Regions from separate parts of the Homo sapiens genome. Here region 1 is linked to region 2. The links come from fine-mapping of genetic effects on gene expression. A gene starts in region 2. The other region holds a variant in brackets. All regions are shown on one strand. Distances are between the middles of the regions.

Region 1 (2,901 bases), 50 kb after region 2:
GAGGTGGGAGGATCGCTTGAGTCTGGGATTTCAAGGCTGCAGTGAGCTATGACTGCACCACTGCACTCCAGCCTAGGTGACACAGCCAGACCCTATCTCAAAAAATAAATCGATAAAAAGGGAGACAGGGGCTCAGAGATGGGTGAGCTAAGGCAGCTGTGATGATGAAGATTCCTGGGGAAAGACGAGCTGGGCTCTGCTGGCAGGCAAGATGGCCTGAGAGGAGGGAAATTGAGTGAGGCCCATGCCTGTTCCTACCTGCCCAGCTCTGGTCACCATGGTGACCACAGCCCAGGGAGCCCATTGGTCCCGCTGGCTGAGAAGGACCAGTGGTCAGCCAGTGGGTGGCTAGAGAGGCAGGCAGCTGCACAGAAATGGGAAAAGGCGGCCCCAGTCTTGAGCAGTGGGAGGCCTGTCTCTTATCAAAGCCGCAGGCTTCGGACTCCGAGGGGCCAATCCTGGCTCTGTCCTCCCCAGCGGAAGCGGCTGCTGATATAGCCTCCGAGGTGGTGAAGTGCTGGGGTGCATATATGCACCTTGAGGGGGTGCTGACATAACCAAGACTCTGCCACTAGGAGTCTCTTGGCAGGTTTGGACGAGACCCAGAGTGGTCTTGGGGAGAAGCCCAGGCCTGAGACCAGCTGGAAACATGGCTGTGGGGGAAGAGGCGGCTGCTGCTGGCTGGAGGATTTCAGGTCAATCAGCAGCTGGCCAGGAGCAGGCAGCCTGTCTGATGGATTGGTCTACCCGCCCTGCTCACAGCCTCCACCCTGGGAAGAACCCAGAGCTGCTGCTGCTTTTTTTTTGAGGGAGAGTGTCTTACTCTGTTGCCCAGGCTGGAGTGCAGTGGCGCGATCTCGGCTCACTGCAACCTCTGCCTCCCGGGTTCAAGCGATTCTCATGTCTCAGCCTCCTGAGTAGCTGGGACTACAGGTGCATACCACCATGCCTGGCTCTTTTTTTTTTGTATTTTTAGTAGAGAAGGGGTTTCACCATGTTGGGCAGGCTGGTCTTGAACTCCTGACCTCAAGTGATCTGCCTGCCTCGGCCTCCCAAAGTGCTGGGATTACAGGTGTCAGCCACCTTGCCTGGCCACCTCTCCACCTTTTGATCAGTCACTGCCTGCTGACCATGCCTTGCCACGCGTGGCATGGACCACAATGATGTACTGCTGTTCCCAGTTCACAGACAAGGGGACTGTGATGGGTGAGGGCTGGTGATGTGGAGCCTAGATAAGCACTGGGCCCCTCTAACTCCAAGTCTAAGCTTCTACCCATTACCCAGAGGCTTCTAACGTTATTCTGAATCTGTCAGGACACCTAGCACTGCACACAGTGCTCATTAAATACTTA[A/G]AAGAGGCCAGGTACGGTGGCTCATGCCTGTAATCCCAGTACTTTGGGAGGCCAAGGCAGGCAGATGATTTGAGGTCAGGAGTTCAAGACCAGCCTGGCCAACATGGGTGAAACCTTGTCTGTACTAAAAATATAAAAATTAGCCGGGCGTGGTGGTGAGTGCCTGTAATCCCACCTACTCAGGAGGCTGAGGCATGAGAATTGCTTGAACCCAGGAGGTGGAGGTTGCAGTGAGCAGAGATTGTGTAACTGCACTCCCAACAGGGGTGACAGAACAAGACTCGGTCACACACACACGTAAAAAATCAGAATATACACATGTACAAACCCCTCTGTCTGCCACACAGACATACTGCATCCATTTGAGCCAAGACCTTTTTTTCTTTTTTTGAGACAGGGTGTTGCTCTATCACCCAGGCTGGAGTGCAGTGGTACAATCATGGCTCACTGCAGCCTCAACCTCCCAGGCTCAAATGATCAGCCCACCGAGTAGCTGGGACCACAGCCATGTGCCACCACACCAGATTAATTTTTGTATTGTTTGTAGAGACGGGGCTTTGCCATGTTGCCCAACCTGCTTGAACTCCTGGGCTCAAGCGATCTACCTGCCTCAGCCTCCCAAAGGGCTGGGATTACAGGCATGAGCCACTGTGCTCAGACCAAGAATCTCTTAACAACGTTCACATTGAACAAGGAACTCTGCTGGCTAATGTCATTTACAAGCCATCCCCTGCCCTCCCAGGAAAGACCCAGCATCCACTGAACCATGGCCAGCTGCTAGCTTCTAACTATCAAAGCTGCCAGTGAACACACACCCTGGCTCATTTTAAGAGTGGCAGAAGAGGCCCTTTGGTGGGAAGCAATGTTTGCAGCGCTGGAGGTTTGCAGAACGGGGGTGACAGGGCACCAGCCTTCATTCCCCATGCCAGAGCCAGCATCCTTCTTCCGGGGTCACGCCTGTAATCCCAACACTTTAGGAGGCGAAGGTGGGAGGACTGCTTGAGGCCAGGAGTTCCAGACCAGCATAGGCAACATAGTGAGACTCCTCTACAAAAAAACACAAAAACTAGCCAGTGGGCTGTGCGCGGTGGTTCACGCCTATAATCCCAGCACTTTGGAACTTTGGAAGGTTGAGGCGGGTGGATCACTTGAGGTCAGGAGTTCGAGACCAGCCTGGCCAACATGGTGAAACCCTGTTCCTACTAAAAATACAAAAATTAGCTGGGCATAGCGGTGCATGCCTGTAGTCTCAGCTACTCAGGAGGCTGAGGCAGGAGAATCGCTTGAACCCAGGAGGTGGAGGTTGCAGTGAGCTGAGATCGTGCCACTATACTCCAGTCTGGACAACAGAGCAAGACTCCATCTCAAAACAAAACAAAACAACAACAAAAAAAAAAATCCCCAAAACTAGCCAGTGGGCCAGGTGCAGTAGTTCATGCCTGTAATCCCAGCACTTTGGGAGGTCGAGGCAAGAGGATCATCTGAGGTCAGGAGCTCAAGACCAGCCTTGCCAGCATGGTGAAACCCTGTCTCTACTAAAAATACAAAA
Region 2 (2,901 bases):
CAGTGGTCAGAGTGTCCTCAGGTGACCCTCCCCAATGTCCACACCCCAGACCTCGAGGGACTTGGAGAACAGCTTCTAGGGGATGAAGAATGGGGCTTGGAAGGGTGGGGTTACTTGGTGAGCAATAAAGTATTCTCATAGAAGGGGCTAATAGAAACAGCGAGGAGAACATGGCTGTGAAGAAAGAAACACATAGGGGGTGTTAATTAGGAGGAGGGGATTCCTGGGGTGGGGATGGAGTAAGAGCGCTATTCTTTGCATAGGAGGGTTATTGTGATCCCGGTAAGGAAGTTACAGGAGGAGAACAGACATTACTGTGGGATGAAAAGATTAGTATAACGGTCACTCTGAAAAGGAAGAGAGTTATTGTGAGATGAGGAGGCCCCGCCCCCGCCCCCCACCCCCAATTCTCTAGTCTTCCTCTTTCTCCTCACCTGAGATCAGGGCGGGAGGGATTAGGTTTAAGCTATATCCCCGGGCCCCCAGCACCTGCCGGGTCTCTGCACAACTCCGGGTGACCTTTGCCTCGCTCCCGGGTCCGGGACCAGGACCGGGACACAGAGGCAGCAGCAGAAGCAGGAGAGGTCGCAGCGCGGACATAACTGCAGCCACCCCAGGACGGCAAAGTGGGTCCTAAGGAGGAAAGCAGAGCCTCCCAAACTCGGGAATCCGGTACTCGGCCGCGGGACCGCTCCGCGGGCCAGAGAAAGAGCGCTGCTCCGGAAAACTGAATACCGAGCACGATAGCTGGACCAGGCGGCATCTGCCGAGACAATGGGAGCGGGGAGCCGGACAGGGGGCGGGGCCCGAGGCGGGGCCCCGCCAATAATGGCTCGGAGCCGGCTTCAGGGGCGGGGGCAAGGAAGAAATTAAGCCAATGTAGCGCGGAAGCTCGGCAGGGGGGCGGGACCCGGCTGGCACTCAGGAGGTTGGTGAAATAGGGGCGTGGTCTCCCTCGGGGGCGTGGCGATCCGGCTCAAAAGGCGGGGCCTGGGTGGAACCTAGCCTATGGCAATTGAGAAGCCAGATTAAAGGGGTTACTAGCAGTCTGGTCCAAAACCCGCCCAATGGAGTAGGAGATTGAGGGTAGCGGGGGTGGGACCTGGGTGGGGGCGGGGCTAAAGCGGGCCGCCCGCGTGCCCAAGCCCACGTGAGAGGGCAGGACGCCTGAGAGCTTGAGGCCACACGAGGCTGTGGAGCGGCGTGACTCAAACGTGGCGCGCATCAGCTCGCACACTTCCAAACCTCGCGATAGCTACTGGCCCTGGGCGAGCCGTTGGGATTGCGCTTGCGCACAGCGTGTCTTGTACGTTCCCGCGCTTTTCTGGAATCTTTCGCCCCCGGAAGGGCAGCGGCGGGCGCCTGTGTGGAAGGTGGGGTGGCCAGAGACACCCGAGGGACCTGAGGTGGGGACCTTCCCTGAACCCTGCTCGGCCAGAAGTCACTCTTCCAGGCTCTGACAGGTTTCTCCTTGACCCAAGAATAGGCCCTCTCGCGACCCTCCCGGCCCTGACACTAGGAGCCTTCCCGGGCCGTGCCCCAATGGCCTCCGCCACAGAGCTGGAGAATCCTCTCCCCAGGCCTCCATAGACTGAGAGTCCATTCTCTTAAGCGCTTGGAAGGCTCTTTATCCTGGAGCCGCTTACCCCAGGGGCAGTCGTAGATATTTTTACCTTCTGGAAAAATAGGAAACGCGCACCTGCCTTTCCTCCTTTTGCGTTTCCAGCCCTATTCTCATGGCGCCTCCACCCCCAAATCCTTAAGAGCCTCCTGTTCCATTCCAGGTGGAATCAGGTGCTAGTCCTCTGGAAACGAAAGCCTGGGGTCTTCTTGTATTTTTTTTCTTATTTCTTTCTTTATTTTTTTTATTTCATTTTAAAAAACCTGTAAGTTCCCTTGCAGAGGGCGGTTTATACTTCCGAAGCCTCCAGAGAGGGGTGCGTCTGAAGCTGCCCTGCTGTCTGCCTTGCTTGGCTTTTTTTTTTTTTTCCATTTAATTTTTTTTTTTTAGAGACAGGGCGTTGCTATGTGGCCCAGGCTGATCTTGAATTCCTGGACCCAAGCGATGCTCCCGCTTCGCCCTCCCAAAGTACTGGGATTATAGGCGGGAGCACTGTGCACCACGCCTCGGCTTTTGGAGAGCAATTCCAAACCCACTGCCCAGTTTCTGGTGTCTGTAATCCCTTGGTGCTTTAGGTCCACTCTTTGCCTTATTTTATTTATTTGTCATTACTTTTTTTTTTTTTTGAGACAGAGTCTCGCTCTGTTTCCCAGGCTGGAGTGCAGTGGTGCAGTCATAGCTCGCTGCAGCCTCGACCTCCTGGGCTCAGGCGATCGTCCCGCTTCATTCTGCCGAGTAGCTGGGACTACAGGTGCACCACCACACCTGGCTAGTTTTTTTGGTTTTGGTTTGGTTTTTTCGTAGAGACAGGATCTTGCTATATTGCCCAGACTGATTTTGAACTCGTAGGGTTAGGCAGTCCTCCTGCTTCAGCTGCTCAAAGTGCTGGGATTCCAGGTTTGAGCCACCCTGGGCACCTTGCCTTTTTTTTTTTTTTTTTAATTATGAGTTAAATTCCCTTGCAGCAGGCAGTTTACACTTCTGAAGCCTCTAGAGAGGGCTGTGTCTGAAGCTGCCCTGGTGTGTACCTTGCTTGGGTTTTGTTTTTTTTTTTTTGGGTGTGTCTCATGTTGCCAAGGCTGGTCTCAAACTGCTGGGCTCAAGCAGTCCTCCTGTCTCAGCCTCCTGAGTAGCTGGGACCACAGGTGTGCGCAACAACACCTAGCTAGTTTTTGCTTATTTTTTGTAGAGATGGGGTCTTGCTATGTTGCCCAGATTGGTCTTGAACTACTGGGCTCAAGCAGTCCTCCCGCCTCAGCCGCCTAAAGTTCTGGGATTAC

Evidence for each region. PIP is the estimated chance that this variant, and not a neighbour inherited with it, causes the effect.
Region 1: its variant is the best candidate, but not a certain one, in a credible set for the expression of STAG3 in whole blood (INTERVAL, PIP 0.66).

The regions. Positions count from the first base shown.
Region 1 is chr7:100,226,300-100,229,200 of GRCh38, forward strand. It overlaps the pseudogene CASTOR3P. Among named protein-coding and RNA genes, the nearest start is that of PVRIG, 7.8 kb to the left of the region's middle. The variant A/G (reference allele first, on the strand shown) is at 1,353.
Region 2 is chr7:100,176,600-100,179,500 of GRCh38, forward strand. STAG3 (STAG3 cohesin complex component) reads left to right here and starts at 1,319. Exons shown (of 34, transcript NM_001282717.2): 1 at 1,319-1,406. It overlaps GPC2 (glypican 2), which reads right to left and starts at 782. Exons shown (of 10, transcript NM_152742.3): 1 at 435-782. The coding sequence starts at 600. RefSeq lists silencers at 744-863, 1,044-1,093.